4 linked regions of the Homo sapiens genome follow. The protein of the gene in region 4 interacts with the protein of the main gene of each other region in a pairwise test. Each region holds a gene or a part of one and is shown on either strand. Other genes may lie near its edges.

Region 1 (8,235 bases), on a different chromosome or scaffold from region 4:
TTTGTTTTCCCAATTTCTATAGGGTTGAAGCTTTGAGAGAAGCAGCAACTGCTGTTGAGCAAGAGAAAGAAATCCTTCTGGAAATGATCCACAGTATCCAAAATAGCCAGGACATGAGGCAGATCAGTGACGGTGAGAGCCATCTCCACAGAAGGGGCTCATCTTTTACACTCCTTTAAAGAGTTTATGATAAGTGTGGGTCAATTTTTGCTTGACTTTTGGTATGCGTACACCAGGCCACAGCATTTAATGTGAGCCACAGAGAGCAGCTGCAGCTGTCAGTTCATTACAGCAGCCACTTACTCAGAGATTTCTTCCAGCATGCTCTCTACCCCAAGCCCCTGGCTAGGAGAGATAGGAAAAAGCCTGCAAGCTCAGAAAAGCTGGCCCCAAGCAGTAAGGCCATGTGTTTTATCCCAGGTTCACAGTCCTAACTTCAGTTCCTCACAAGTTACTGGACTGCAAGAGATTAAAAAAGCAGAGGAAGAGGGTGAGAGAGTGGAAGCAGAGAAGTAGAGACCAAAAAAAAAAAAAAAAAAAAGATGAATTGAGGTACAACATAAAGAGAAGGGACAAAATGCAGAGAAAATGAGGAAACTTGTAGGACCAATAAAAGGCATGAATGTAAAAATGTGCTGTCATTTTCTTTTTTCTTTTTTTGAGATGGAGTTTTACTCGTCACCCAGGCTGGAGTGCAATGGCGCGATCTTGGCTCACTGCAACCTCTGCCTCCTGGGTTGAAGCGATTCTCCTGCCTCAGCCTCCCGAGTAGCTGGGATTACAGGCACGTGCCACCACGCCTGGCTAATTTTTATATTTTTAGTAAAGACAGGGTTTCACCATGTTGGCCAAGCTGGTCTCAAACTCCTGACCTCAGGTGATCCGCCTGCCTCAGCCTCCCAAAGTGCTGGGATTACAGGCATGTGACATCTGCCTAACCTGTGCTGTCATTTTCATGTGAAGAACATGAAATAGGAATAGGTCACTTCTGATTTTCTTTTATTGGCACTGGACTTCCTACTTGGGCTCCTTTGGTGCCACACAGGCCACATGGTACTGGGCCAAGTGGCTGGTGAGGTAAGTAAGCAACCTAAATCCAGATCAAAACTGTTACACATCTATAGGTAGGCCATGATCTAGTCTCTACGCTATCCTGCCCAAAGATCAATGAATTAGGAAGTTACAGAAGCAGGAGCTTGCTGACTTTCTCATATAAATAATGAAATGTTGATAGAGCTCCTCGTGCTGGCCAAGACTTTAGACCACTGTCCTGCTTCTATCTGGAGAAGGATGAAGTCAGTGCCTAGTATTGACGACAGAAGACAGCTTATCTTCTATCGTGGCTACATTTTCTCAACCAAAATTTGGGGCATTGTATTCTGATAAATGCACATGTCGTTCTGGAGAGATCTGGGACATCTGATCTCTGGAGCTCTACCCAGCATAAACCCTATATGTGCTTACTGCTCACAGTGTTAAGACTTGATCTCCATCCCAGTTACAAATGCATACCTACCCAAACTTTTGCAGACATGCCAATTTGAGAAGTCATCTGGTATCCCATATATGCAGATTGTCAGGAAGTGGTATTCTACAACCTCTTTCTGTAATCTAATACATTTCATCAGTTAATCTTACATGCTATAGTTTCAGCTTTTATCTCTAAAAAAATTTCATGGCAGAGGTAAAGAAAATAATAAATTTAGTCACAAACAAATGCCTTAATGTTTTTGACACAGATAAGTTTACATCTCATATTGATTTTTAGGAGAAAGAGAAGAATTAAATCTGACTGCAAACCGTTTGATGGGAAGAACTCTCACCGTTGAAGTGTCAGTAGAAACAATTAGAAACCCCCAGCAGCAAGAATCCCTAAAGCATGCCACAAGGATTATTGATGAGGTGGTCAATAAGTTTCTGGATGATTTGGGAAATGCCAAGAGTCATTTAATGTCGCTCTACAGTGCATGTTCATCTGAGGTGCCACATGGGCCAGTTGATCAGAAGTTTCAATCCATAGTAATTGGCTGTGCTCTTGAAGATCAGAAGAAAATTAAGAGAAGATTAGAGACTCTGCTTAGAAATATTGAAAACTCTGACAAGGCCATCAAGCTATTAGAGCATTCTAAAGGAGCTGGTTCCAAAACTCTGCAACAAAATGCTGAAAGCAGATTCAATTAGTCTTCAAACCTAAGAGCATTTACACAATACACAAGGTGTAAAAATGATAAAATACTATTTTAATTGATAACTAGTTCTTTGTTAGGTATAACCACTTAGTTGACACTGATAGTTGTTTCAGATGAGGAAAATATTCCATCAAGTATCTTCAGTTTTGTGAATAACAAAACTAGCAATATTTTAATTATCTATCTAGAGATTTTTTAGATTGAATTCTTGTCTTGTACTAGGATCTAGCATATTTCACTATTCTGTGGATGAATACATAGTTTGTGGGGAAAACAAACGTTCAGCTAGGGGCAAAAAGCATGACTGCTTTTTCCTGTCTGGCATGGAATCACGCAGTCACCTTGGGCATTTAGTTTACTAGAAATTCTTTACCTTAAGCAGCACACACATTTACTACACACACAGTGTTAACAAAGCACTGTGCTTAGAGGGTAAAAAGGAATCACAAAACAAGAATCTTTCCAAAGTTGTCTCATTCAGCAATGTTAAGGCATCTGTATCAAATTATTTTGGATGTAAAGATTCCTGTGTCTCATAATATGAATGTATTTTTTGATATACAAGAAACTGACATAAAATGTGAGAAAACCACCTATAATTTACCACTGTGAACAATTATATATCTATCTGCTTCATCTTTTCTCAAATGCATCAATTCTCTAAAATTCCTATATTGTAACTTGCCTTTTTTTAAAAAAGTTAGATGCTGATATAAAGTCTGCTTAATTGTCAACTTAATGAGCTCTATTTTGTGTAGTTATATCTTTATCCATTCCTCTTTTATGGACATTTAGGTTGTTTCCAACTTGTTGCTATTACTGCAACATATTTTTGTACACAGGACTTTTTCCTTCTTTCATTTTTGTTTTTCTCTGTATAAAGGCCCAGCAGTGAATTATATTGGGTCAAAGGATATAGACGTTTTCATGGCCTCACACATATTAAACTTTTTTTGTATAAAGGTTACAGCAATTTATACTTTTTTCAGTAATTAAAATATAGCTATTTCACTGAAATATTTCCAGCACTGAGCATTAATACCTAGTTTGCATTTTGTTTACTAAAAAGGTTGACCAGTGTGTTGATTCTTCTTTTATCTGATAAAGTGTGAAGCAACTAGAGAACACTTATTTGTTCAAAGTAACTAGTCCTATTGATATACAAAAACCACAACAACTTCCCTGGATACTATTTTGAAATGAACACATCAATTTTTATTTGAATGTAGGTATTCTTCACACTGAAAAACCAAATCAAGATCCAAACTGACTTTATGTATGTATATATCTCTCAATGCAAGCAATATCAAACTTCATTTTCTCTACAAAAATGCCAAGTTAGTCTCTTTATAAAAAGCAGTTACAATCTGAAGACATTCATGTTACTTCCTTTGCCAGCTCCAACTCTGCCTTATTTAAATCTTTGCATTTCATGGGAAACATTAATTCTATCTATGGCAGAGCCACTTGGTTTGTTAGCAGACTGATTTGCTGTCATCAGACTGTGAGATGATTTTTTGTGTGCATCATTTTTTTCTTGACCAGCTTTTTGAAAATTAAGAAATGGATAGTCATGTTTTCTTCAGGTTCTCAAGTATTGTCAGCATCCGTAAATCCCTTCCACTCTGGGAAATACTACTGCTCCCTGCTTCCCATGGCTTCCACATCAGTCCAGGACTTTTTCTACACAAATTATTCTGGCTCTGCCTCCTTGACCTTGGTATTCTTAGCATTATTTTTCCCATTTTTTTGCAATGGAGTTTTTAATGGAGGTCATTGATTTCTGATCACAGACTTGAAGAGCTATGATCCACATTTCCAAGCTGCTTGGGGTCCCTGGTTTACAGTGTCTCCAGCATTCTGTACCTAGAGCCACATCTAAAGGGCAGGGAATCTCCAGTGTGGTTTTTTGTTTTTTTGTTTTTTGTTTTGGAGTCTTGCTCTGTCACCCAGGCTGTCTGACAAGTAGAAGACATATCCACTGTAGCAAGGAACACTATGGAGTATATGAGTTAGGGAAAAGAGACTGTGAAGGGAAGAGAACAAACATTTTGTAGACGTTTGGTGTTGAATATATGCTATGGAGGCAGTTTCTATAGTTTCATTTACTTCATGAGGTTTCATTTTTTCTTTTCTGAGATGGAGTCTTGCTCTGTTGCCCAGGCTGGAGTGCAGTGGTGTGATCTCAGCTCACTGCAACCTCCACCTCCCGGGTTCAAGCGATTCTCCTGCCTCAGCCTCCCTAGTAGTTGGGACTACAGGCGCCCACCACCACGCCCGGCTAAATTTTTGTATTTTTAGTAGACATGGGGTTTCACCATATTGGCCAGGCTGGTCTCAAACTCCTGACCTTGTGATCTGCCTGCCTTGGCCTCCCAAAGTACAGGGATTACAGGCATGAGCCACCACGCTTGGCCAATGGGTTGGTTCTTAACATGTATTTTTATTTATAAGAATGGGAGTATAATTTATTTTCAAATGATGATGAATCTCCTGAGTCACATTTTTACCCTCATTTAAACTATTGTCTTTTATATAGACTATAAGTGGATATAGAGTATGTTTTGCTGTATCTCAATTCTCTACCATTCCTAGCATATAATACATAATTTTAGGGTAGCCCTCCTGCCATTCCTTGTTAGCACTACTTTCAATAAAATGAGAGTATTAAATATTGGCAGAGTATCTGAAATATGAAATAATTTTAGGTTGCTTTGATCTTTAAAGAAGTTGCATTATATATTTTACTATTTAGATCCACACTGTTGATACAATCATACATATCACACAAAATTTTAGCTTTGAAATGCATTTATTTTCTGATTATTGGAATTCATCCTTCATGAAATTTTTAGAGTAGTGTTTTAAATTAAGCTCCAGAGTGTAACTGCAACCAAATAGCAATACATACAAGTGGTTTTCCATTCAAATTTACAAAAGCATTATTTATTAGTAATAAAAATATAGAAGGAATTCAGTTTTCCTTTTATCCCCAATTTTTTGCTTTTAAAAGACCATTTACTAACATCCTACTGTAGATATTTCGAGAGACAGATGAAAATAATAATAATAAAGATTATTATAGCCAAATCATCCAGTTAGCCAGGAGTTTGATGACTGGATATTTCAGAGTCTACTGCGGGTTTTAAATATTTTGTTAGCAAATGAATTCATCTGTATGATGAGAGACTTACATGTTTTATAGCTGAAAACCTAAGGAGTGACAATAGTACATGTGACATTCTTAACAGTTAAAAACTGAGTAAGTCCTGTTCATTAGGTAGGTGCCATGTGGAACAAGCTTTCACCTCATCAATGCATTTTGTTTTCAGAGAAACAGACTAATGATAGATTAATGGGAACATTTTATCAGGTTAGCAGTAACTATTTCAAAGGTTTTGAAAAGTATGCTAATAATTAACAATATCTTATATTAAAAGGGTCCAACACTAAGTTGGGACATTAGGTCCTAAGGCCAACTCCCTATTCTAAGGTCTTCAGAAAAGGTCCAGTTTCCTAAAACTCACAGGTCCAAGGAGTACATGTTATTTATTGAGAGTTCCTTCTGAGCACTGCACTGCCAACTTCTAAAGCAACCACCTAGAACTTCACTCCATAATGAGGAAAAAGTTTTCATCCTCTTTTTGGTAGTTTTAGCTTTATTTTGAAAAAGTAACGTGTGCTATCAACTTTGGGCAGATACAAAGGAAATCATTTAACCTGGTTTTATTTAACTATATTGCCTTATATGGGTCATTCTATATACTATTTAATTCATAGACAGAGACTGGAAAAGGAAAAGGAAACCTGAGGAACTCTGAAATATGGCAGTTATTCCACAGCGATATGTCTACGCAAAAGATTAGCCGTAATGTTAAAAAAGTAGATTAGAGCACAAATGCACAATCACCTGGAATCTTGGAAAAGTTTTTCTTTAGTATACATGGTTTCATAAAATTAAAGTTATTTAAGAGAATGAAGGGTCTTGGAAAAAAAATGTCAATTTTTGAAGGCTTTAAGAATTGATTAAATTGAGAAATTAACATGGCTGACTTTCAGGCCTACTTAATTATTTTAAATGACTAATTATGGTTAGGTTTAAAATACAGCAGTGCAAATTAAAAATTCAAATATGTAACAAAGCTCTCTCTTCAGTTCTTATTTAAAAAAAGATAAAACTAGGTACATAAAATTATATTACAGGAACTGTAACTATCCTCAGAGATTACTTTTTTTAAATATAGAAAGGTAACACGCTTTTAGCCACACAGCTAACATGAAAAAGAACTAACTAGAACACATATAACAAGTGATTTTTCTGCCAATAAAGACAAAAGACTATTTGTTGCAAAGTATTATTTTGTGCAAAAATTAAAGAGGAGAGTAGAGAGTAGAAAATTGAAGAGAGTAGAAAAGATGACTCATTAGCAGTATCCACTGTTTGTTAGGAACTGAATTTTGCCCCCAAAACCTATGTCACTATCAGCAATGGGAGTGGTGACAACTGGTGACATAAAAATAAGCATTTTACATTACTGTGAAATAGATAATGCCAGATCATTTCAATATAATGAAAAGCAAAAATTTACTTTTTAATTTTTTTTATTTTTCCATCTAAAATGGCAAAGAGAACATTTACTTTTGATCACTTAACAAGGACACACCCAGGAAATTTGATTTTCTCAACATTAGGAGGATGAGGGGAGTACAGATGGAAAAACAAAAGATAAAACACAAAAGGAGTACATAAAACATTGTTTAGTACAAATAATGAAAAATGACTTCATGACATTTTCCAATAAAAGTTATTTTTACAGATTTTGCAATGCTGTAAAAACCAGGTATATTGAAAGGGGTTATTTATAGGTTAAAAATAAAGCCATTGATGAGTGATAATCAGTTTTAACAGAGTTCACGCAATTATCTTAGCTGGAAAGCTACTGTCCCAAGTGACAAAATTTATGTCCTGACACATGATTACATATTAAATCATTTTGTAAAAGAAATGATTCTGTATGTGGGACTGACAGCTCTTGAGAAAGTGCTATACAAACAAGGTTATAGAAATGTTGAAGTGATTGATAATCTTAAAATACCATACAAAAATGTGTAAACAAAAGGATGGTTTAGAGTTGCAGGGCATTATAAAATATGTAATTTTAGTTAAGACTAATAATAATATTTTTGTGCACTTTAAAAATGGTTAGTGTAATCTTGTAAGTTCAAAGCTGGGTTCTCAGTGAGCAGCAAAAGGTGTTAGATGCATCACCACACTTCACAGGACCTCCTGAATGACTGCAGATGTGCTGTGTACCTTCTTAAGGGGCTTTGGCTGACCTTATGAGAGCAGGAGCTCACCATGCTTATGGGTGACTATATCAAAAAGATCTGCAATAAGGCTCACCTGGGAGATGCTCTAGCATTCAAATTCCTATACTCCTCTTTTATCTACGCTGTCAGATGAAAACTGCTTACTGCTTTTAAAAGATATAATAAACAATATAAATTCTGATAGTAAAGCACTATAAAAATTAGGTATGATATTTTTGGCACAAAGCACTTTTTAAACCCAAGCTCATTTTGCAAAATATATGTCTAGAGTTTATCATTTGAAAATAAAAACATATACACAATATGTAAATGGTTTTATAAGTGAATTAATTAGAATGTACATTTTCTTAAATACTGCACATACCTTCAGCTTACTCCAGTACCAGACATCTGCATGCACACCCCACATTCTACATTACACAGATATTGCACAAGTTTCAATGCCAAAATACTAATGCAGTCTGGCAAGATTTAGGGTTTACCTTTCAGTATTATTTTGTGAAAGTATTCAGATTCAATACTATTTCGCAGAAAAGCTACATGACCAATTTCAGGAAAAGAATGCTTGCTATCTTTCCTTGATCCACAGTATTAAAATCTGTAACAATATATTTAGGCATTTCATTTATGTTTTCCAGCATTTAAAATTCCGCAAAACCTGTGTTTGAAATTTCTTATAGCATTCCTTTACAAACAGGAGAAGCTTCGTCTAATG
Region 2 (7,551 bases), about 110 Mb from region 4:
TTGCCCAGGCTGGAGTGCAGTGGCACGATGTCAGCTCACTGCAACCTCTGCCTCCTGGGTTCAAGCAATTCTCCGGCCTCAATCTCCCAAGTAGCTGGGATTACAGGTGCATGCCACCATGCCTGGCTAATTTTTGTATTTTTAGTAGAGACGGGGTTTCACCATGTTTGGCCAGCCTGGTCTTGATCTCCTGACTTCAAGTGATCTGCCCGCCTCTGCCTCCCAAAGTGCTGGGATTACAGGTGTGAGCCACTGCGCCTGGCCCCTAAACTCTTTTCCAAGCCATCGTTGCATTTAGCCTTTGCAGCAAAAGTGTGCATCGGAGAGGAGACATGACCCTCCTTGCAATACAGGGAAACTAAGTCTCCCACAGGTGAAAGGACATACCCAAGGTCTTTACAGCTAGAATTTAGAAGGGCCCAGAATAGATCCCTGACCTCTGAGTTCCATGCTCAGTCCTTGGGCAAGGAATGCTGTTTCCTCATCTGTGAAAGGGATGCTGATTCCAGCCTTGCAGAGTTCCTGGCTGAAAGTGACATAAGGTCATGGCCCAGCGTAGGTCCTCATAAGTGGGAGTTCATTATTACTATTGTTATTGTTGACTCTTAACTTTTCCATCAGCCTTTGCAAAGAAATTCTGTGTGTGGAGAGATCACACTAGCTGAATTCTGAGGCTTCTTCCAGCTTGGGATTCTACATTCCTGTCTCTTCCCCCACATGTCCGTCCCTGGCCCTCCCACAGCCTCTGCAGTTCTTGGAAGCCTGTGGACACTTCCTGATAAGGCAAACGCCAAACCATTTGTTCTTCGTGTTTGCTGGCTTGCCTGGCATCTCCGTGCCCCACACCTCTCCCTGGTTTAGCAAGCAGATTAAACATTGCTGAGGGAGAGGAAGGAAGGCAGGGGGTGGGGGGAAGCTGATGTCAAGGCTCAAATGAGGTCTCAGGGTGGAGTCACAAGCAGGGCATAGCTGTAAAAGGGACTGTGTAAGAAAGAAGTGAATTAATCATCTTAAAAGGGGTGTGTGTGTGTGTGTGTGTGTGTGTGTGTGTGTGTGTGTATTTCACATGCTCCAAGGCCTTAGGGGAGATAGCTTGCTGGAAGTAACCTGATGAGAAATGCCTGAAATTGCTCCAGGCTGGTGCTCAGCTGCTGAGCTGGGCTAGTTGTTAAAATATTCAGTGGTCCCCAACCTTTTTGGCACCAGGGACCAGTTTCGTAGAAGGCAATTTTTCCATGGACTGGGGAATGAAACTGTTCCACCTCAGATCATCGGGCATTAGATTCTCATAAGAAGCATGCAACCTAGATCCCTCGCATGCACAGTTCACAACAGGGTTCAAGCTCCTATGAGAATCTAATGCCACTGCTGATCTGACAGGAGGCGGAGCTCAGGCAGTAATGCTGGCTGAACTGCTGCTCACCTCCTGATGTGAAGCCTGGTTCCTAACAGGCCACAGATGGGTGCCGGTCCATGATCCGGGGGATGGGGACCCCTGAATATTGGCTAGCTATTGCCCTGAGCCCTCCCTAGCCAACCCCAGTCACTCTGATCTTGTCCCCAGGACCCTCTAAACCTCTCCACCTTCCAACAACTAAAGGGTCCCAGGACCCTCCTCCATCACTATGACATGCACCCATCCCTTCTGAATGGTCAGTGCCCAGCTGCACTAGTTGTTAAATATTTTGAATCTCAGCTCCGGGTGCAGGGAGTCCTGGCTCCATGAGAAAGTGAGTGGGTAACTTGGGGCAACTTGCTTAACTGCTCTGACCTTCCATTCCCACATCCCTGCATGGAGGGGTTGTGATGGGAGTGAGAGGATGTGTATAACGCATTAAGCATGGAATACAGACTCAGGGCTTGGTCCATGGGAATTAATATTATGAAAAGGCTTCACAAGGCTGGACTCACACTCCAGCAGCTGGGACTCCTGGGAGCTCCTGGCTCTGCCCAGACTCTAGACACCTAGGAGTCGAACTGGGGTCTGGGACACCTCTGGACCAATCTCAGGAGTCCTCGTTGCCTCCTCTCCCAGGGAAAACTCCAGTCATTAGAGGACAGGGAGATTCCTTCAGCCAGGCTGAGATCCTTGGAGATTTCCACCCAGGCAGGATGCTGCAGCTGTTTGCCTTAACCATGGCAAGGAAATTCATCTCAACACATCCATCTCTGTGTGAAAAGCCCCATTTGGACTGAATAAGGAGGAGAGGGAGAGGTCTTGGGTCTCAGCTTTCAAAGTCCATGATCTTCCTATTTGGTTAGGGGAAACCAAATTACAGTCATTTGCAATACCGTCATTCACATCCCATCTTCACTATTTTTTGCCTTATATGCTTACATTGCTGTACCATGATTTACTAAAGGTTTTTTTTTCTTTTAGATCATCTCATTTTTGATAAAGTTAAATTCTTATCACTGAAATGTTCACTGAGGAAAGCGATCATGAAATAAATCCAATGAAAGCAAACTGTGGTTAAATTCTAACTAGATAATATTGCCTGCCTAAGGGCCTCAGCTCTCTCATTGTTAAAAAGGGAAGGTAGCAAGTGATAGAGGCTAAAGGCGTTAAAGGCATGTTAGTACTTAGCAGAGACATTCCTTCAGATGTAAGTAGAAGCACTGAAAGAGAACTGAAGAGGAATTACTTTCCCACCAAATGGGTTTAAATACAAGTCACTTGGTTAGAGACCTTGGACTTGTCTATCTCTCTGAGTTTCAGTTTCCCCATAAGTAATATAAGAGCATTGTCATGGACAATCAGGAAGATCCTTTGGGGCCCTGATACTCTGTGGTTCAATGATCCTGCAATTTGTATGATACTCCATCTTGCTGTCAAGATGCCAACATGTAAGGTCAAAGACTGCAACGTAATTCTCACTCCACCCTAAGAGGTGGGTACTATTATTGCCCCCTTTTTTTCTGCAAAGAAACAGGTTCAAAGAGTCAAGATCACCAGCCCCATGTTGTGTGGTCAGGAAGAGTCAGAATTTGAATGCACGTCAGCCTGCCTGCAAAACCCATGCTCTAGGCCATAGCCACCCTGTCACACTGTACCTGGTGTGCACTGGGTTGGTGTGCACATGGTTAAACAGTCAGCCCATCCCCAGCATTGGGAGGGAGGTCTAAACTTTTGACTTTGTCTCCGCTTCAAAAGCTTGACTTGGCAGCTTTCTAGTTCCCTCTTTTTCTTCCAAATGGGCTTCCCAGAAGCAGCCTTGTTCATCTCCATGGTTCCAATCTGGCAAGGAATCTCCTGGGTAGATACGGCTCATGTGGCTACAGGTTGTTGTACCCACAAAAAAAGAAAGAAAGAAAGAAAAAAAAAAAACTCCCCAGCCCCTCCAGAAGGAGTCCTGCCTATGATCAGGAATGGGCTTACCTCATGCCTTGGTTCTTTCATCAAGACCCTCGTATTTACAATAGGCAGAGCCAGCAGGGATCAGTGGAAAGATTTTGATTGAACTGCCGGTCCTTCCTGCCATAGTCCTTCTTTCAAATGTCTGGTGCTGGGGGAGGCAGGAGAGCATCATGGTCAGATACTCTGAGTTTGGAGACCAGGATTCCAATTCCATTTCCTATCTGCCATTTGCCAGCTGAGCAACCTTGGGCAAAGCAGTTCACTTCTCTGAGTCTCAATTTCCTCATCTGTAAGATGGGGATAGCAATGGAATCTGCCTGGTGGGATTATTGTTAACACCAAAATGATATGATTCAGCTAAAGTACCTGGCACATAGAAAGTACTCAGAAGGTCATGGATTTCATGGTTAAAAAAAATAATGGCACCCCAATGAGATCACTAATATGTCCTCACAGTTTTAATAGTTTGTTGAAGAAACCAAATTCTCAATAGTCTCATTCACCCAAAGCAATCCAAAAATCATAAAAATACCTTATTAGAAGTTGGACCAGATTTAGGTTTAGAAATTCCATCTTCGATGCTTTCTCACTTGTTGAGCTTGTCATTTGATTTCCCCCAAGTCTCTGTTTAGTGATCTGTAGAATGGGCATATTAATTCTTACCTCTTAATCATCCTCTTACAATACTCCAACCAAGTATTGTCTATAACTGAGTTTTAAGAACAAGATAATTGGCTGGGCTCGGTGGCTCACGCCTGTTATCTCAGCACTTTGGGAGGCTGAGGTGGGTGGATCACAAGGTCAGGAGTTCGAGACCAGCCTGGCCAACATGGTGAAACCCCATCTCTACTAAAAATACAAAAATTAGCCAGGCATGGTGGTGGGTGTCTGTAATCCACACTACTCAGGAGGCTGAGGCAGGAGAATTGCTTGAACCTTGGGAGGCGGAACTTGCAGTGAACCAAGATCGCGCCACTGAACTCCAGCCTAGGTGACAGAGTGAGACTCTGTCCCAAAAAAATAAAAGGAAGAACAAGATAATAATGATCTGCTAAGTGATTGTATTAGTCTGTTTTCACACTGCTGATAAAGACATACCTGAGACTACATAATTGATATATATATGAAAAAAAGAGTTTTAATGGACTCACAGTTCCACATGGCTGGGGAGGCCTCACAATCATGGCAAAAGGTGAAAGGCACGTCTTACATGGCAGCAGACAAGAGAGAAAATGAGAACCAAGCAAAAAATCTTATAAAACCGTCAGATCTCGTGAGACTTATTCCCTACCATGAGAACAGTATGGAGGAAACTGCCCCCTACCCATGATTCAATTATCTCCCATCAGGCCTCTCCCACAACGTATGGGAATTATGGGAGCTACAATTCAATATGAGATTTAGGTGGACACAGCCAAACCACATCAGAGATACTTAGGGTATGAACAAAATCAAGGCTTATTTTGAATACCATCGAGTATGTTGCCATCTGAAATCTACATGTGGCCAGCTTGGCCCCTTTTATCCACCAAGGTACCTAGTGCTTGCATCACCATTAATGCATTTTGTAGTGAAGCACTCTCCAGCAAGCACATGTCAGATGAAAATGTGTTGCCTGTTATGATAACACCTTACTTGCGCTCTATAAAGGGATGGTAGTGGTGCCATTTCTGCTAGTAATTGTGGTCAGTAGTGGGTATTAAGGTGATGACTTCAACCTGGGACCAAATATGTGGGCCACAGCTCTCTTTTAAGTTAAGAACTACTGTTCAAACAGCATTTTACCATTTGCAAAGCATACTCAGACTCTGAAGTTCAAATACTCTACAAGTTCAGTATTATTATCCTCATTTTGCAGATGAGAAAACAAGCTCAGAGCAACTGAATAATCTTCCCAAGACCACACAGCTAGAAAGGGGTAGAGCCAGGATTCAAACCCAACATTGTATGTCCCCAAAGCCTAAGCTCTTATCAAAAATATTTCCTCTCAAGTGAATAAAAGAATGTTTAAGCAATATTAACAACAATAAATGAATAAAATCGTGTGTTTCTCCTAGGCTTCCTGCAGAGGTGGATCCTGTGACAGTATTTGCCTCACTTTCCCCAGAGGGTCTGCTGATCATCGAAGCTCCCCAGGTCCCTCCTTACTCAACATTTGGAGAGAGCAGTTTCAACAACGAGCTTCCCCAGGACAGCCAGGAAGTCACCTGTACCTGAGATGCCAGTACTGGCCCATCCTTGTTTTGTCCCCAACCCTAGGGCTTCTCTGATTCCAGGATACATTACTTTAGCTGAACTCAGATTTAGTGCAAGTAAAATGTTAGAGGGTGCGGGGGTGAGGACTGACCACAGATTCCCTGGATAGTGTAGTGGTAGATTTCTCCACAGGATAGCGCAATTGGCAAATCATGCTTGGTTGTGTTAGGCCAAAATACTAGTTTTGCTTTCTTTACCTTTTCTATCTTGATGAAAATGTTGCACATTCTATAGTTGCAAAACACATAAAAGGGGACTTAACATTTCACGTTGTATCTTACTTGCAGTGAATGCAAGGGTTACTTTTCTCTGGGGACCTCCCCCATCACCCAGGTTCCTACTCTGGGCTCCCGATTCCCATGGCTCCCAAACCATGCCGCATGGTTTGGTTAATGAAACCCAGTAGCTAACCCCACTGTGCTTCCACATGCCTGGCCTAAAATGGGTGATATACAGGTCTTATATCCCCATATGGAATTTATCCATCAACCACATAAAAACAAACAGTGCCTTCTGCCCTCTGCCCAGATGTGTCCAGCACGTTCTCAAAGTTTCCACATTAGCACTCCCTAAGGACGCTGGGAGCCTGTCAGTTTATGATCTGACCTAGGTCCCCCCTTTCTTCTGTCCCCTGTGTTTAAGTCGGGATTTTTACAGAGGGAGCTGTCTCCAGACAGCTCCATCAGGAACCAAGCAAAGGCCAGATAGCCTGACAGATAGGCTAGTGGTATTGTGTATATGGGCGGGACGTGTGTGTCATTATTATTTGAGTTATGCTGTTGTTTAGGGGTAAATAACAGTAAATAATTAATAATAATAATAATAATAATAAAGGAGCTGACGTTCTTAGCCTTGTGTGGTTCTTTTAATGAGGAACTAAATGTAATACCACCTAGATATACAACATCAGTTAGCAATGCTGTGGCTTAAAGTAATGTTGCGCGGAGCCGCGATGCCTAAAGGAGGGAGAAAGGGAGGCCACAAAGGCTGGGCGAGGCAGTATAGGAGCCCTGAGGAGATCGACGTACAGCTGCAGGCTGAGAAGCAGAAGGCCAGGGAAGAAGAGGAGCAAAAAGAAGGTGGAGATGGGGCTGCAGGTGACCCCAAAAAGGAGAAGAAATCTCTAGACTCAGATGAGAGTGAGGATGAAGAAGATGACTACCAGCAAAACCGCAAAGGCGTTGAAGGGCTCTTCAACATCGAGAACCCCAACCAGGTGGCACAGACAACCAAAAAGGTCACACAACTGTATCTGGATGGGCCAAAGGAGCTTTCGAGGAGAGAACGAGAAGAGATTGAGAAGCAGAAGGCAAAAGAGCGTTACATGAAAATGCACTTGGCCGGGAAGACAGAGCAAGCCAAGGCTGACCTGGCCCGCTGGCCATCATCCGGAAACAGCGGGAGGAGGCTGCCCGGAAGAAGGAAGAGGAAAGGAAAGCAAAAGATGATGCCACATTGTCAGGAAAACGAATGCAGTCGCTCTCCCTGTATAAGTAACCGCGACCCATGGGAGGAGATGCCGGGGACCTGGGCCGCGCTGCCAGGACCTCTGCTGTGTCTCGCCCACCCTGTGCCCTGGCGCCGCCGCAACAGCCCCTCGTGGCCAGGAGCCCCCCATGGCCTGGGGCCTCCTCTTCATTTTGGCACAGAAATTGTTTGGGGGATGTGGGGGGAGCTGGGGGAGGGGCAGTTGCTATCTTTGAGACAGAAAGATGAGGGACAGCATTTCACATGTAACCATTTGAATGTTTTTGCTGTTTTTAGAATTCAGAGCCCTTGCTGGGGGGTGCCTGGGAGATGGGGTAAGAAGAGCTTTCATTTTTCTGGTAGATAGCATGTAAGGGGGTGGTTGTCCCAGGAGGCAGCTGCTGACAGGTTTGCTACACCCAGCCCCGGACTGTGTTGCCTAGGTGCTCATTCAGAGAGGGGCTGTCATC
Region 3 (8,235 bases), on a different chromosome or scaffold from region 4:
TCTTACGTCTGCTTGTTAACATTTGTTCAGATTTGATTTCAGCTAATCCTTAAAAGTTTTTTGAGACATCAAACTTAGAATAAAAGGAATTTCCTTTGCCGAGATTCATCAGGTATTTACACTTAGCTTACATGGCCACACCATTCCTCGTGTGTGTGTGTGTGTGTGTGTGTGTGTGTGGGCGCGCGCATGTTAGGGTAATCCATTTTTCTGTTTGTTTCTGAATTGCTTTGGAGAAGGCAACTCAGACTCCAAGGAATACAACAGCTGCCGTGTGAAGCTTTTCTCACTTTTCCAGTGGTCGTAGCAGGAACAGCGTCTTGACCTCACATCAGTGACGTGAAAAGAGCTGAGTTTGAAGTGCATATTGGTCCTCCATAAAGAATGTGTGTATGTGCTGTTTTTTTAATTAAGTCTGGTAATTTATTTGATACAATGTATTGTAGTTTTAGTTGAATTAAACTAGTTAGTAAAACTGTTGGTGAGGTAGTGTTTCAGTTACTCTGTAGATAAGCTCTTTTGTTAAAACCTCTTAAGTTTTTTGTTCCTGAATATGTTACAAACATCTATTTTCTCTTACTGTAGCTATCACATGAGGAAAAAAACTTGAAAAAAAGACTTCATAGTGTGTGTTTATGTTTGATTTTAGAAGACCCTTTTGAGGACTTCTTTGGGAATCGAAGGGGTCCCCGAGGAAGCAGAAGCCGAGGGACGGGGTCGTTTTTCTCTGCGTTCAGTGGATTTCCGTCTTTTGGAAGTGGATTTTCTTCTTTTGATACAGGTATTAAATCCCTAGGTTTAATCTCTGTTATCTTAACAGCAGTTAGTACTTATAAAATCATAATACTCTTTTAGTTAGAGTGCTTTAAAATATGTGTATACCTTTCGTAGAATAGCATTGTGGATTTGCCAGCTTTTTTTGGTATACAGGTCTGCGCTTAACCTACATTTTCTCCTAATCTTCCTAAGAATGTCGTGCTTGGAAATCTTCTCCTCTTAATATAATAATCAAGGCCAGAATGTAATGAAATTCTTAGTTAAAAAGGGGCAACATATGTTCTGCATCAGTAGGTGGAAAGTAACGCAGTTGGAAAATCTCACTAACCTTCATGCTGTCTAACCTCCTTTGTAGTTAAAACAAAAGTGCACAAATAGCATCCTAGGAGCATCCCACTGGATGGAATCGAAGGCTGGGCCTTACCACTAGCCCAGGCCAGGCTCACTCACTAGTGAAGTGTCAGCCTCACGCACGTAGCTCTTCATAGTTCACCGATGGAAACAAGCTTGTAGACTGGAGTAACATGAATATGCATATATCATGATATGCCTGTGTGTTTAGCCTGAAGAATCCCACTTTTCTCTGAAGCTCATCCAGTTTCTCTTCACAAAGGAGCTTTTTTTTTTGTTGTGTTTTGTTTTTAAATTTAAAAAGAGTCTCACTTTAGTGAGTGCCACTCTTAGTGTAGTGGCACGGTCTCAGCTCACTGCAGCCTCCCGCCTCCTGGGTTGAAGTGATTCTTGTGCCTCAGCCTCCTGAGTAGCTGGGATCACAGGTGTGCACCAGCAGGCCCAGCTAATTTTTGTATTTTTAATGGAGACAGGGTTTTTGTCGTGTTGGCCAGGCTGGTGTTGAACTGACCTCGGGTGGATCCACCCGTCTTGGCCTCCCAAAGTGCTAGGATTACAGGCATGAGCCACCACTCCTGGCCTGGAGCTGCTGTTTTGATTCTCTCATTTTTATTTTTAAGCCTCCACGATAAGAATTGGGAGAGCTTGTTATATAGGGTTCCTTCTTCATCATGGTCAGAATTTTATTTTCTTTGAACATTGCGCTCATGCCATCTAGGTAAGTAGTGAATTCTGCTCGATTGGACCTCAGTTTTGATGTGCTTTCCCTCAACAGATCCTCTCATTTGATACCATGGAATATGCTGACCACAGGTTAAGAAAGCTAGTTAAAAATACCACGTAAATTGTCCTTTTTAAAAGTAATCAGTGGCTCCTGTATGTGTGTTTGTGTGTGTGTGTGTGTGTGTGTGTGTGTGTGGTGGGGGTGTAAGCCTTCTCCACTTCTGAGGTGCCTTACAAAGTATCACAAGAATAAATACTTAGCGAGGCTTAATTGAGACCAGTGCAGTAGCCACCAGCCACGTGTAGCTCCTGAGCCCTGGAGGCCTGGCTACTCCTAACGGAGATCAGCAGGAGTGTGAAATAGTCATTGGGTTTCAAAGATGGAACATGGGAAGCAGTGTAAAATACCGCAAATGATTTTGATTTTTTGTATTTCCAATTGAAATATTTTGGATATACTGTATTAAATAAAATACTAAAATTAATGTCACTAGTTTCTGCTTTTTAGTGAAATCATTAGAAAAGGTAAACTTAACATACCTGGTTCACATATTTCTTCAGGACACCACCAGCCCTAGACAGTATCTGCGCTTAGATGATTGAATCATGTTCAGAGGTATGCGTCATTTGTGTTAATGGGAGCATTTTGGAAACAGGACAAAAGCTCTAACCAGTAGACCAGCTTTAATATCGAAAAATAGGTTTGCTTTAGTGTGACTTGTGAAAGTTTTTAGTGTCCACACTGCGATAATATCCATAATGTATAATTGAGAATGGTGTTCATGAACTGTAGAACCATAGTTTTTTGAGACGAATACTTGTATTCTTTCTGCAATTATTTTAGTTTTTTAATAATTTAGATTCTTATCCCCTGTGGTCCTGTGGCAAAGAGGAGGGAAGCCGATTAGGTTTGCTGTTCTGTGGTGGTGAGGTCACTCTGTTCCTGTGGGGTAAGAGTGTCCATCACAGTCTGTGGAGTTTACAAGCCACGCCAAAGCAAACAGAGCTTGATACCGAGGCTGCTCTGCTGGTTGGAGCTTAATACTGGTCTCGGTTCCAGAATGTTCACATTAACACAACACGTGCTTCATGGTGCCAAGCAGACCACCCACAAGCAGGGGCTGTCTTTGGCATGTCAGAAAAGCTGCTTGGGTCCCGCGAAGCTCTGCATGAGGAGAGGGGGAGGGGAGAGGCTGCACTCTCGCGTTGCCCTAGAGTCCCCACTCAGGGATCTGAGAGACAGTCTTTCCCCCTGGGCACCCCAGCACTTCAGCTGAGGCCTTGATAGTTGCGTCGTTTATTACTCCTCGGTTCTATGCCTTAACATTAAATATTCTGCTACTGAACTTTCAAACTCTTGTCTTTGCATTACTAGTTGACATATTTCTTTAAGCATTTTTCTTTTCTGTTTTCCTGTAGGATTTACTTCATTTGGGTCACTAGGTCACGGGGGCCTCACTTCATTCTCTTCCACGTCATTTGGTGGTAGTGGCATGGGCAACTTCAAATCGATATCAACTTCAACTAAAATGGTTAATGGCAGAAAAATCACTACAAAGAGGTACTGTGGTATTCTGCATTTTATATTTTTAGTAAGCAGGCGTAACGTTTCACTGGTGCCATGTTGCACGTCTCCCAGAGTGTGAAGTAGAGGTTGTTGTATGCTAAATCTGGCGCCATGAAAATCTTTTGCTCTCCAAATTCATTAATTAAAGCCTTTTCTCTTAAATTTTACTTAACTGTTGAATTATTAGAGGGAATCTTTAATGTAATACAGTGTAATAAGTTTCTGCAGCATTGTTAAAATGGTAAAATGGAAAATCATTAATAGTAAAGCCTTTACTGTTTTATAGCCTCTGCATGTATTTAGCATCCGCCTGTACGGTATTTGAGACACAATTTATTTTGTCAGGTTAATTCTATTTTAGGAAAGGAAGATGTGTTGTTGACAGGTTGGCTTCAGCCATGTTTTTACAGCCTGAAAATTACTTATATTCATGGTGTATTTCAGTAATGTCCTTAAACAACTTAGTTACCCTCACACATGCATTTTCTTTACCAGAAAGGTTTTTAAATGAATTTTTTTCCTACAGAATTGTCGAGAACGGTCAAGAAAGAGTAGAAGTTGAAGAAGATGGCCAGTTAAAGTCCTTAACAATAAATGGTAAGGAGCAGCTGCTGCGCTTGGATAACAAGTAATTCAACGCACGCACTTAACAGAAATGTTAAACTATAACAAGCACCATTTGAGGATTAACAGGAACATTTTTTTGAAGATTTCAAACGAACTCGACTTTCAGTATAATTGTACCTAAAGTATTTATAAACAGCTCATCGGAGCCTCTATTTGTCATAGACTTTTGAGTTGATTGTTGGGACCACATAATAGGACCATTTTTTTTTTGTCTTTAAAATTGTTGTAAATCTCTGTATGCACTTTGCTTTTTTATTAAACGTACTCCAAGGTGAGTCTTGACTCTTTAGTGTAGGACAAGATTGTACACTAACACCAGCATGGACCTGCTTTTCATTGTGTCTGAAATGTGAGCCACGTAGTGTCGGCCTGCTGTGAAGTTAACATTGCCAGGACGATTCTTCTACAGAAATAATTTCAATTTTTTTCAGTATTTAGTAGTGAAAGATATTAATACATTAATGGTAATACATTTCTGGTTTAATATAAATTAAGGATGTTTTCTAGTTGTGCATGAATGCTGGCAACTTAGTAAGTTTTGACAATTGTTTAAATATGTAATGTTAAGCTTAGGTTTAAAAAAGTAAAGCTGGTAAACTGGGTCTTTGTCATTTGCTTTAAAAAAAAAAAAAAAGAAAATAAATGCGAATGTGTTGGTGCATTCTTCCTGAGTGGGATCTGGAGCTTTTTTGTGTCTGTGTATGATTTGTGCCTGGGCTTCTAGTGTCACTTTAATAGCGTTTCGTGCTGTTCATTCAGGTGGATGCCGCACCTCAGTTACATGTAGACATTTTCTTCAGTATATTTGAAGTATATGAAGATTTTCATATTGTAAGTTGTGATTTAGCAATTGATCAAACATTTAATTATGGTAACATTTCTACAGGAGAGGGAAGAAACCATTGTATAATTTTTCACTCTTAAAGTATGTTCTAGTTTGATGTAAGATCACTTACGGATCCGGGCGCGGTAGCTCAACGCCTGTAATCCCAGCACTTTGGGAGGCTGAGGCGGGTGGATCACCTGAGGTCAGGAGTTTGAGACCAGCCTGACCAAGATGGTGAAACCCCTGTCTCTACTAAAAATAGAAAAATTAGCTGGGTGTGGTGGCAGGCGCCTGTAATCCCAGCTACTCTGGAGGCTGAGGCAGAAGAATTGCTTGAACCCGGGAGGTGGACGTTGCAGTGAGCTGAGATCGTGCCATTGCACTCCAGCCTGGGAGACAGAGCAAGCCTTCATCTCAAAAAAAAAAAAAAATCACTTTGGGACAGTCAAGGTCTTTTGTTTCTCAGTTTGTAATATCTTTCATGATTACCATTGGTAACTAGAATCCTAGCTGTAGTGAATATTGAACTAGACTTTGACTGAATTTGAAACTGTTTTGGAACTAAACAGCGTGAAAACCGCTAGAAGGACAGGCGGTTCCCTGACAAACAGCGTAGCGTGTTCCATCCGTGCTGGCTTTGCAGGAGGGCATAGAGATTGCTCGGGATACGCCAGAGCCCTTAAGCAACCTCACGTGCTGTTACTGAAAATAAGTAAAAAATATTTTAAGGAATTTCATAGGAGCTCAAAAAAGCATAGCAACAGTTAAGTAATTGGGGACAGTTGAAGTACAAGAAGAACAACGAGTGATGTGCTTGTCTGTTGTGTCGGAAATAACCCAGCACGCGGCACTTCCTGTCTCTGGATAAGGTAGGTATGCAGCCATGGCACGTGCGGGAAAGCGGGACAGCGCCCTCTAGTGTTGGAAATCCCACTCACAACTAGCATTGTGCGATCATAGAGCGCGCTTTTGTTTATGCCATCAGGACGGGTGGTTTTTTGTTACTAAATAAATTCAAGTAGATACTTGGACTAAGGCGTTTTATATTTTTCATTAGTGGGTGGGATGAGTCAGTGCAGCAGCCTTGAGACATCCAGGGATGTCCAGAAATACCAGGAAAATGAAAAGTCTTTACCTGTAATTCTTAAACTAGGAAGCATTTTGCTATAGCGTTGGTACTACACAATTTTAGAACACATTTGGTTGTTCTAGACTTTGTGGAGTGTTTCATGCAACTCTAGCTGTGAACAGTTTACTCAACATGGTGTTACAGGTAAAATATGTTTGACTCCTAAGGAATCTTTCTTGTGAAAATTTTTTTTTGAGGAGGAGGGAGCATTCATTTGTACTTGGGAAAACTACTGTTTTGTTTGTTTGTTTGTTTGTTTGTTTTTTTGAGACGGAGTCTTGCTCTGTCATCCAGGCTGGAGTGCAGTGGTGTGATCTTGGCTCATTGTAACCTCTGCCTCCCGGGTTCAAGCAGTTCTCCTGCCTCAGCCTCCTGAGTAGCTGGGATTACAGGCACCCACCACCACACTCAGCTAATTTTTGTATTTTTAGTAGAGATGGGATTTCACCATGTTGTCAGGGCTGGTCTGGAACTCTTGACTTCAAGTGATCCATCCACCTTGGCCTCCCAAAGTGCTGGGATTACAGGCGTGAGCCACTGCGCCTGGCTGAGAAAATTACTTTTATTCTGTTCTTCCATTGATAGAAGTGTAATTTTATTAAGTTACTAATAGAATAGAAAGCCTATTTGTTGCTGTCAAATCTTACACCTTTCATTTTTAAACCCCGTTAAGTTTATTCCTAGAGAATTCAGTCTAAGGGTGCATGAGAGTACCTTTGAAAAGTTAGGAAATGGCTGTGAGCATTGATACCATCACTCAAGTAAGTGATGGCTTGGAAGAATAATAGCATTTGATTTAAATTACAGTTTTTGGTAAATTCAACAGTCTCTTTACTTGCTGTAGTGTTGAGCGCCTCTGAAAATAGGAAGCTGAACGCTCCTTAACGGCACGTATCTGGTTGTGCACAGCCCCATGTGGTCCCATCCATTCTGGGGTGTGCTGTCTGCTGTGTTTGGTTTGTGCTCAACTTCCCTGTTTGAGATTCTTTTTTAAGTTTTATTTTTAAAGTCTTTAATTTTTAAAAATACTTCAATAGCTTTTGGGGGGGGGGTAAGTGGTTTTTGGTGACGTAGATGCATTATATAGTGAATTCTGAGATGTTAGTGCTGCTGTCACCCAAGCAGTGTATGTTGTACCCAAAGTGTAGTTTTTTAATCCCTGTTTGGCATCCTTTTGTCTGGAGGGCTCAATAATCTGTATTTTTGTCATCTCCTGTTTTCCTATTCCTTGTAGCTCCCCACCCCGTTGGTTTGATTTGAGTGATGGATTATTCCTTATATTTCTATCCTTTATAAAATTTAAGCTTTTTAGATTCCAAAGATTCCAGGCTTGATTTTGGAAACTCGGGGTTTTAAATAATCTGAAAGATGTCAATCAATAGTGGCATCATGGGCGACTTGTCATTCTTCCTCTTGGAAGTCCTTCAATGAGTAGATTTTAGAAGTGGGTAGAGTTAGTGTCACCATTTGCTAAACTTACCTGTGCACCTAGTGTGCTGAAGTAAATGTTCCTTACAATGTGGAAACGCTTGAGGAACACTGTGGGGTGATTGTCTTTCCAATCAATTTTAATTTCTGTTTATTAATTAGAGCTTGAAAAATGCCTGCTTATCCTGTCTTGATTACCTTCTAGATATCATTTCTTTCCGGGAATACTGATCTTGTTTTAAGCACTATAGAATGAATTAGAAACATTTTTATTTGCAGAGGATTCAACGGTAATAAATAATTGGCATATTATCTCTGTTATTGATTGGCAGCAGTGTTGAAATTTAGCCATTAGCATGTTCAGTGACAGAATGGAGGCAGATGTTGTTATTTCGGAGGTTTTCAAGCACAAAATTATGTTTAGTTGATTTGAATACTTGGTTTCGTGGGGTCTGGAGGGGACTGAATTACATAACCCACTGCTGTTTGTATTTTTAAAAACGAAGGCATGAGATCTTACCCTTTGGGGTCTTGATTTCAAAGCCTTTGGATATGGTATTCCTAGCTGTTCTAGGGACGTGGGGGGAGCTAGATGTAGGCCTTGGTACTAAAGTGTGACCAATGGTTGAAATGGGGTAGACCGAAGTCTGTCATTTGGCTACGTTATTTCGTCTTCCTGTTTAAAAAGGTGAAAAGAGGGAATGTCACAGCAGCTATTCCTGTGTTAGAAATCTAGACGTCACTGATTTCCAGAGACAGCAGAGTTTATGATTGGGCGTTAGAAGGCCTGTCCTGGCTTCTGTGCTT
Region 4 (8,339 bases):
TACCTTCTCTGGGACAGGAGGGCTCCCCAACTCACCCCGCCTGGTGCCGAGCGCATCTCTGATGTCTCTTGGTAGACCTTGGGGGCACCATCACCCGTATTGGAGTAGGAGATGACAGTGGAAGATGAGAAGGTCTGGCAATTGCCTCCAGCTGTCATGTGTTCCTGAGGACAGGGTAGGTAGGGGAGGGCTGAATGGGGAGGCATCACCCCTGGTGAAGGGATTTCACCCTTCAGCTGCCTGTTCTAGCCTGTATCTTTCTCACAAAATGCAAGAACTGAAAAAACATCAGGCCTCATCATTACCCTCCCAAATTCCTCTGAGTCCAACCACGAGCAAGAAGGACCTGAAGAGACAGGGCCTTAATTGTATGCTACGTAAGAGAGCTGCTGCCGGCTGCTTCAGGCAGGCATGACAGCAGGTACAGGGTCCCAAGGCTCTCTGGTTCAATTACTTTATCCAGTACTTTACCCTTCACTAGCATACTGTTTCCCTCTTGCCTTAGAGGATGCAAGGTGTTGTCAGCCATCACTGAGAGCAAGGCCGGGGAAGGGTATGGGGCAAGTCTCACCATGTTTCCAATCATGTCATTCATCATCCCAAACATGTCCATGAAACCACCCGACTGGAGGAAAGAGATGGAAAACAGAGTCAGGAAAGCAAAGTCAGTGTTCAGAGTTGATCCTGTTTAGGAACCCACAACCCACATGGCTGCACATTTCCTTTCTCTTCTTCCTTCACATCTAGCAAGTTCTCTTTCTCATTCTGTTAAAATAACCAGAATACTCATATTTCTCCTCCTGTGAACTGCTGACCCCTTCCTCAGTCTCTGTGACTGCTGTGATCCAATTTTCCTTCTCCTGCTTGCTATATTCCCCCCATCTTTAGGAAGCAAGCCAAAGTAATGGATTCTAAACTCTAAAGAGGTAAGGCATGAAATTGTTAAAACCTACCAAAAAATCATCTCTAGTTGGCCCTTTAACTGCACTTCCCTCCTCAAAAGAACAAATTTTGCTAGACAATTACATCTTCCTAATGCGTATGAACTTCTAGGAGTACAACAGTTAATAACATCTTTTCTTTTTTTTTTTTTTGAGATGGAGTCTGGCTCTGTTGCCCAGGCTGGAGGGCAGTGGCGCAGTCTCGGCTCACTGCAATCTCCACCTCCCGGATTCAAGAGTAGCTGGGACTACAGGTGTGTGCCACCATGCCTGGCTTTTTTGGTATTTTTAGTAGAGACGGGGTTTCACCATGTTGGCCAGTCTGGTCTCGAACTTCTGACTGCAAGTGATCACCCATCTCGGCCTCCCAACAAGAGTTTAACACCTTTAACCCACAGGGCTCCTAGTACCCAACAGGCTCAGAGCTTTGTGAATGCCATAAAAAGAGAAGATTCTGGGGTTACTCATGAAACTATTCCTAAGAGGCACATTTGGGAATAATATCTAAGGGTAGAGAGTGTGTCTGAGATGGAAGGACACAGGGAGATAAAGACTCACCATTCCCAGCATCCCAAAGGGGGAGACAGCTCCAGCCTACAGGAACACATGAGGAACAGAAATTAGAGACCACATCCTATCTCTTTACAATCCCAAACCAGGCCCATGGCCTCAATTTTTTTCCATCCTCTCAAAAGGGAGTCACAAAGCCCTTTTTCCTGACCCTTTCCCCAACTCCTAGAGCATTTCACTTGCTCAGTTGGCTGTAGTGCAAGAAAATTAAGTGCTTTCCTAACTAACCTCCAACCTTTCTTTGGGTCTCAGGTGTGTCTCAGCATCATTACCTGCTGCATCCGGCGGCTGGCAGGCCTGGTCCCTGGCATGTTGCCATCTGTGATGCTGAGGAAGGGGCTATATCCAAAGCCACCTGACAACATACGGCTCATATGCTGACGGTGAATAGCAAAGGGATCCCTGTGGAGTGAGCACATAGTATGGATGGCAGAAGCGCCAAACTGTCAATCCCTCCACCACCCTGCAAAAAAATACGCACAGAGCAACAGTGGCACCGATGCCTACTTCCTGCTAGGTAGGAGCTAGGTATCCAGCCAGTTCCAACCATTCCTAGCAATGGGAACCCCGATGTCTGCCTGAACTGCTCAGAGACCTGGAGTGGGAGAGCTTGAGGGGGAGGGAATACTCACATCAGGAACATGGGATCCTCAGGCTCCACGTCCCTCATGAAGCGGAACATCCTGATCTCAGCTCCAGGGGGCTCCACACTGGAAAGATATGGAAGCTCAGATACTTGGAGGTGGCCAGGGTTTTGCACACCCACTCAGTGTGGGGACTCTCAGAGCACTGTCCTTTCCAAATCCTGTAACTGACCCCCTAAACTCCAGGGAGACCCTACTCCAGGTGTTCCACACAACCCTCTAGGGAGGGAAGGGCTCTTCAAACCTCTTTCTCAATTAGGGCCATGGAAAATTTTTCCAACCCTCTCGGTTTTTCCCTCCCCCACTCAGAGCCATCCTCTTCCCAAAGCTCTGGCCGGTAGCATACTCTCCCCTCCTCCCGCCGACGACACCGTTCTAGATGAGAATGCCAAGTGCAGGTCCTCCGCCCCATTAATGACCCCAGTCACCCCGCCCCCTCCTTACACTCAGGCCTCCCCCAGGCGGGCCTCACTAAGCCCCCCGCGCCTGTCTGCGACTCCTCTAGCTCCCGCCTCCCCGCCAGGCGAGCAGGAGAGGTAGGCCTGAGCCTCTCCTCTCCCCACCCCGCATCCCGGGCTCCCAGACCCTGCAGCCCCGTGGGCCCGCTCCCGTCCGGGGCTGCCAGCTCTGCCCGAGCCTCACCAGTGCCCGATTCGGGCTCAGCGGCCCATCCGGCCGGTTTCGCTTCCCGGTACGCTGCAGGGTCAGGGTCGCGGCCCGGAACGTGGGGATTGGTCCGGGCTTGAGCTCCTCGGCCTTCCACGCCGCCTCCTCCCACAGCTGCCACCTCCGTACGGCCCCCTCGGCCAACGGAGCCCGAACCTCGGCCAGGCCCGGGCGGAAGTGACGTCACGATAGACCCGCCCACCCGGGGCCGGGCCGTGGGAGCCCCGCCCCCTGGCGCGGGTGGTGAGATGGCTGGGGCCGAGTCCCAGGGGCGCCGGGGCCATGGGCCAAGCTCAGGGGAGCAGAGCCTGAGGCCGAGAGGGGTCCCCTGGGCACGAAGAAGGGGAGCTCATTAGTAACCTCGATTTGGGTTCTGTGGACTGGAAGAGGCTCCCATAAGGCAGGGGAGGAGAAGGAGAAGAGGAATCCATTCTTCGGGAGGGACCGGGTTGGAGGTTGAACCTGGGGGCGCAGTGCAGCACGTTCTCTCTCCCTCCTCAAGGGGAAACTGGAGGACGAGGGGCAGATGCCCCTTGGGGAGAGGCGGGCGCTCTGTGGGCGACGAGGCGGGGCGGATCCCTGGGGGGAGCTTTAAGCCGACTCTACTGGAGAAGCAGTCTACCCTAGAGGGAGGATGGGCAGTTTTCCTGCGGGGGAGGCGCTTGGGCCTGTCCCCGCTTGAGGAGGAGCGTTCCTGGCAGGGCGGAGTCCCCGGAGTGACGCAGAGGAGGTGAAACTCTCCAGCCCAGATCTAGTTCGGGCTTCAGAAAGTCGGATGGGGCAGAGGATCCAGGTTGGGGGGTTGGCCGCCAGATGGCGCTCCTCGGCCAGGCTGGAACCGGAGGCCCTTGAGAACTCGCGTTGGAGAGGGACCTGGACCCTCCCCCGTTACCCATCTGTGAAGGGTTGGACTGGGGAAAGGCTACAGTTCTGAATCTATTAGTTTAATGCCACTCTCCCCTTCCTTTTACTCTAATTCTTGTGTCCTCAAGAGCTCCCAGTCCTGCACTGACCTTTCTTGGTTGCTTTCTTAGGTCAAAGGTCTAAAGTTTGGGGGAACAAAGGAGTGGAGAGCTCAGTTAACCTGGATCACCCAGGGGAGGAGCTAAAACGGGGCCCAGAAGACCTGCCTCCAAGGCCAGAGACTGATACTTTGACATACTAAATGTCTTGCATAAAATCTGGCTCTGCTGGAGAGAAGGGCCTTCCCCTTTGGGGTCAGGGCATTTGGACTGTCTAGGATGGACTTTAACCAGACTCATCCAAACTCCAGCTTTCCCTGGTTCTTTACTCTGGCTTTTAGCCATATTAGTGCTGTGTGGAGTCTGACCCAATGAGAAAGACTTGTTCCCAGTAATTCCCTGGGGGAGAAAGAGGGGGTCCCTGGTGACTCAGGAAAAGGTGCTAGGAACAGGGCTTCTCACGTTTCTTTGGACTTGATCATTATTAAAGAGGAAAAAACAATAATAGAGACAGGGAGCAGAGATAGATAATTAAGATATAAGCTGACAGACTGGCAAGTCAAAGGAAAACAGACAGAATACAAGTAAATTTGTTTTTCATTGCTATTTCTGGGGGAAGAGACTTAGTAAAATCTTCTGTCTTCCAGATCTCTGCACTTCCCACCATGCAACTTCCCCTTATCCTCTTGCCCCAAATGAAAGCAGTTTGACATGTGATCAAGAGTTGTCCCAGTAAAGGTTCTGTGGCTGAAACTTAACTAAAGAGATCCTATCCATTTTTTTTCTTTTGTCCTCTCCTCCTTCTAAAGCAAGTTCTTTATTGTCCAGCCAATCAACAAATGTTTAAGGCCTGGCGCAGTGGCTCACGCCTGTAATCCCAACACTTTGGGAGGCTGAGGCGGGCACATCACAAGATCAGGAGTTCGAGACCAGCCTGACCAACAAAGTGAAATCCAGTCTCTACTAAAAATACAAAAATTAGCTGGGCGTGGTGGCACATGTCTGTAATCCCAGCTACTCAGGAAGCTGAGGCAGGAGAATCGCTTGAACCCAGGAGATGGAGATTGCAGTGAGCCAAGATTGTGCCACTGCACTCCAGCCTGGGCGACAGTGAGACTCCGTCTCAAAACAACAACTACAACAAAAACGAAAATTAGCCGGGCATGGTAGCAAGCACCTGTAATCCCACAAGTAGGCTGAGGCAGGAGAATCACTTGAGCCTGGGAAGTGGAGGTTGCAGTGAGCCGAGATCACGCCATTGCACTCCAGCCTGGGGGATGGAGCGAGACTCTGTTCCAAAAAAAATAAAAATAAAAATAAAAAGCAAATGTTTAATGAGGCCTGGAACTGTCCTAGGTACATTGTATTAAGCATACATACAAAATATAAGACACGGTCTCTGCCAATTGAAGGCATACAGTCTTGTAGCCACCTTTTTCTTTTTTAGTTACCTGTTATCCGTTTTTTTGTTTTTTTTTTAATTAAATTGTAGAGATGGGGAGTTTCATCATGTTGCCCAGGCTGGTCTCAAACTCCTGAGCTCAAGTGATTCGCCCAAACTTGGCCTCCCAAAGTGCTGGGATTACAGACATGAACCACTGTGCTCAGCCACCTGCTATCCTTTACGTACCGCCTTTAGGTGCCTAGAGTCCTTTCTCTTCTTCCTTCCAAAACTTAAGAATCTGCTGGCCAGGCGCGGTAGCTCACGCCTGTAATCCCAGCACTTTGGGAGGCCGAGGTGGTTGGATCACTTGTGGTCAGGAGTTCGAGACTAGCCTGGCCAACCTGGCCAACATGGCAAAACCCTGTCTCTACTAAAAATACAAAAAAATTAGCCAGGCATAGTGGCACGTGCCTGTACTCCCAGCTACTTGGGAGGCTGAGGCATGAGAATCGCTTGAACCCAGCAGCAGAGGTTGCAATGAGCCGAGATCTTGCCACTGCACTCCAGCCTGGGCGACAGAGCAAGGCTCCGTCTCAATAAAAAAAAGAAAAAAAAAAAAGGAAATTGTTGGCCAGGCACAGTGACTCACACCTGTAATTCCAACACTTTGGGAAGCCAAGGCAGGAGGCTCGTTTGAGCCCTGGAGTTGGAGACCAGCCTGAGCAACATAGTGAGACGTTGTCTCTTCAGTAAAAAAAATTAGCCAGGTGTGGTGGTGTGTGCCTGTAGTCCCAGCTACTTGGGAGGCTGCGGTGGGAGGATTGCTTGAGCCATAATCACACCACTGCACTCCAGCCTGGGAGACAGAGCAAGGCCCTGTCTCTAAAAAAGAAAAAAAGAAAAAAAAAAAACCTCTTGAACAGGTGAGGATGAAAGAGCAAATGCAAGAGCCCATTTTCAGAGTTCTTGGAGACATACCATATAGGCAGTTGTCTACTCCAGGAATTAAAGGGATGTAATTTTGCAAGTAACCAGAGTTTGTGTCTGTCTTCCTTCTCCGGGTCTCTCCCTCTCCTTCATTTCCTTTCCTCTCTTCTCCTTCACTCTCTTCCTCTCTCCCTTCCTCCATCCCTCTTGTCTTTTCCCTCTCTCCCTCCCTCTTTTTTTTTTTTTTTTTTTTGAGACGGAGTCTCACTCTGTCGCCCAGGCTGGAGTGCAGTGGCACGATCTCGGCTCACTGCAAGCTCCGCCTCCCGGGTTCACGCCATTCTCCTACCTCAGCCTCCCGAGTAGCTGGGACTACAGGTGCCCGCACACCTGGCTAATTTTTTTATATTTTTAGTAGAGACAGGGTTTCACCGTGTTAGCCAGGATGGTCTTGATCTCCTGACCTCGTGATCTGCCCGCCTCAGCCTCCCAAAGTGCTGGGATTACAGGCATGAGCCACAGTGCCCGGCCCTTTCTTTCTTTATCTTTCTTTCTCTCTCTCTCTCTTTTTCCTTCCTCCCTCTCCTCTCCTCTTTTTCTTTCTTTCTTTTTCTTTCTTTCTTTTCTTCTCCTTCCTTCCTCTTTTTTTTTTTTTCAGAGTTTTGCTCTTGTTGCCCAGGCTGCAGTGCAAAGGCATGATCTCGGCGCACCACAACCTCCGCCTCCCAGCTTGGGTTCAAGTGATTCTCCTGCCTCAGCCTCCGGAGTAGCTGGGATTACAGGCATGTGCCACCACGCCTGACTAATTTTGCATTTTTAGTAGAGACAGGATTTCTCCATGTTGGTCAGGCTGGTCTCGAACTCCCTACTTCAGGTGATCTGCCCGCCTTGGCCTCCCAAAGTGTTGGGATTACAGGCATGAGCCACTGCACCTGGCCTGCCCTCCCTCCCTTCCTTTTTCTTTTCCTTCCTTCTTTCCTTCCTTTCTTTCTTCCTTCCTTCCTTTCCTCTTTTCTTTTCTCTTTTCTTTCCTTTCTGTCCAGTGAACTGTGGTGAACAGTGTCCCATAGGTAAGATGTAGAAGGGAGAGCAGGCCCTGCCAGGGGTGAGGCTCAATCATAAGGCAGATAAGGATTGTTGGCAAGGAAGAGAAACAAAGTTCCAGCATTCACTGTTCTATCTGATGGAGCCAAAGTCATGAAGTCCTTGAGAGGGTACAGCCGGGCCAGAAAAGGGGTCGTCTCTTCAGATGTGAGGTCATGCCTCTGGAGCAATCCCAGGGCTGTGAGACATTAGAGTGGAGGGAGGGTGGAGGAGTGATGAGGGAATGAGGGGAGACTGAGTTTTTTGCCTGAGCGGCATGAGCGGGTGTGGCTGAGTGTGTGTGGATGTGATGTGCATTTGTGTTGGGGGAGGGAGATAAACTATAAAAAGGAGCGCTAAGGTGCCCCAGGTAGAGAGAGGGGGGAATGCCAACTCAGTGAGAGAGAAAAGTGACTTGAGAGCATTTTTTAAAAGTCACCTTTTCAGCTTTAAAAAAATAAATAAATAAATAAATAAATATATATATATATAGCCAAATATGTACTGAATGCCTACTCTGTGTCAAGTACTGTTCATGGTTCTGGAGATACAGTAATGATAGAAAAATAAAGCAAGGTAGAATGGGGATGGAGAACAGGCAGGCAAGCTGGGAGGCAGGCAGTTGTTGCTTTTGATGTAGGTGACTAGGGAAGACCTCACTGATGAAGTGACATTTAAGCAGAGACCTGAACAAGGTGAGAGAAATAGCTGGGATGAGAGCATTCTGGGCAGAAGTAGCAAGAGCAGGCCAGGTGCAGTGGCTCAAGCCTGTAATCCCAGCACTTTGGGAGGCTGAGGTGGGTGGATCACTTGAATCCAGGAGTTCGAGACCAGCCTGACCAACATGGTGAAACCCTGTCTCTGCTAAAAAATACAAAAATTAGGCTGGGCGTGGTGGCTCACGCCTGTAATCCCAGCACTTTGGGAGGCCAAGGCAGGTGGATCATGAGGTCAGGAGATCGAGACCATCCTGGCTAACACAGTGAAACCCTGTCTCTACTAAAAAATAAAAAAAATAAAAAAATTAGCTGGGTGTGGTGGCGGGCACCTGCAATCCCAGCTACTCAGGAGGCTGAGGCAGGAAAATTGCTTGAACCCGGGAGGCAGAGCTTGCAGTGAGCCGAGATCACACCACTGCACTCCAGCCTGGGCAACAGAGCGA

What was found.
Region 1: the proteins of MLF2 (region 4) and BAG2 interact in binary tests that used the Homo sapiens proteins (3 or more experiments, as listed by UniProt).
Region 2: the proteins of MLF2 (region 4) and HSPB8 interact in binary tests that used the Homo sapiens proteins (3 or more experiments, as listed by UniProt).
Region 3: the proteins of MLF2 (region 4) and DNAJB6 interact in binary tests that used the Homo sapiens proteins (3 or more experiments, as listed by UniProt).

The regions. Positions count from the first base shown.
Region 1 is NC_000006.12:57,182,010-57,190,244, forward strand, and holds the end of BAG2 (BAG family molecular chaperone regulator 2), read left to right. Parts: intron 1-22; coding exon 23-132; intron 133-1,768; coding exon 1,769-2,181; 3' UTR 2,182-7,824; downstream 7,825-8,235. UniProt on the Homo sapiens protein: Co-chaperone for HSP70 and HSC70 chaperone proteins. Acts as a nucleotide-exchange factor (NEF) promoting the release of ADP from the HSP70 and HSC70 proteins thereby triggering client/substrate protein release.
Region 2 is NC_000012.12:119,188,284-119,195,834, forward strand, and holds the end of HSPB8 (heat shock protein beta-8), read left to right. Parts: intron 1-5,415; coding exon 5,416-5,575; 3' UTR 5,576-6,463; downstream 6,464-7,551. UniProt on the Homo sapiens protein: Involved in the chaperone-assisted selective autophagy (CASA), a crucial process for protein quality control, particularly in mechanical strained cells and tissues such as muscle. Displays temperature-dependent chaperone activity.
Region 3 is NC_000007.14:157,381,597-157,389,831, forward strand, and holds part of DNAJB6 (dnaJ homolog subfamily B member 6), read left to right. Parts: intron 1-649; coding exon 650-781; intron 782-3,270; coding exon 3,271-3,412; intron 3,413-3,944; coding exon 3,945-4,015; coding exon of another isoform or gene 4,016-4,050; exon of another isoform or gene 4,051-4,728; intron 4,729-8,235. UniProt on the Homo sapiens protein: Has a stimulatory effect on the ATPase activity of HSP70 in a dose-dependent and time-dependent manner and hence acts as a co-chaperone of HSP70. Plays an indispensable role in the organization of KRT8/KRT18 filaments.
Region 4 is NC_000012.12:6,750,142-6,758,480, forward strand, and holds the start of MLF2 (myeloid leukemia factor 2), read right to left. Parts: upstream 3,001-8,339; 5' UTR 2,798-3,000; intron 2,776-2,797; exon of another isoform or gene 2,741-2,775; intron 2,222-2,740; 5' UTR 2,194-2,221; coding exon 2,144-2,193; intron 1,914-2,143; coding exon 1,784-1,913; intron 1,536-1,783; coding exon 1,500-1,535; intron 626-1,499; coding exon 572-625; intron 165-571; coding exon 36-164; intron 1-35.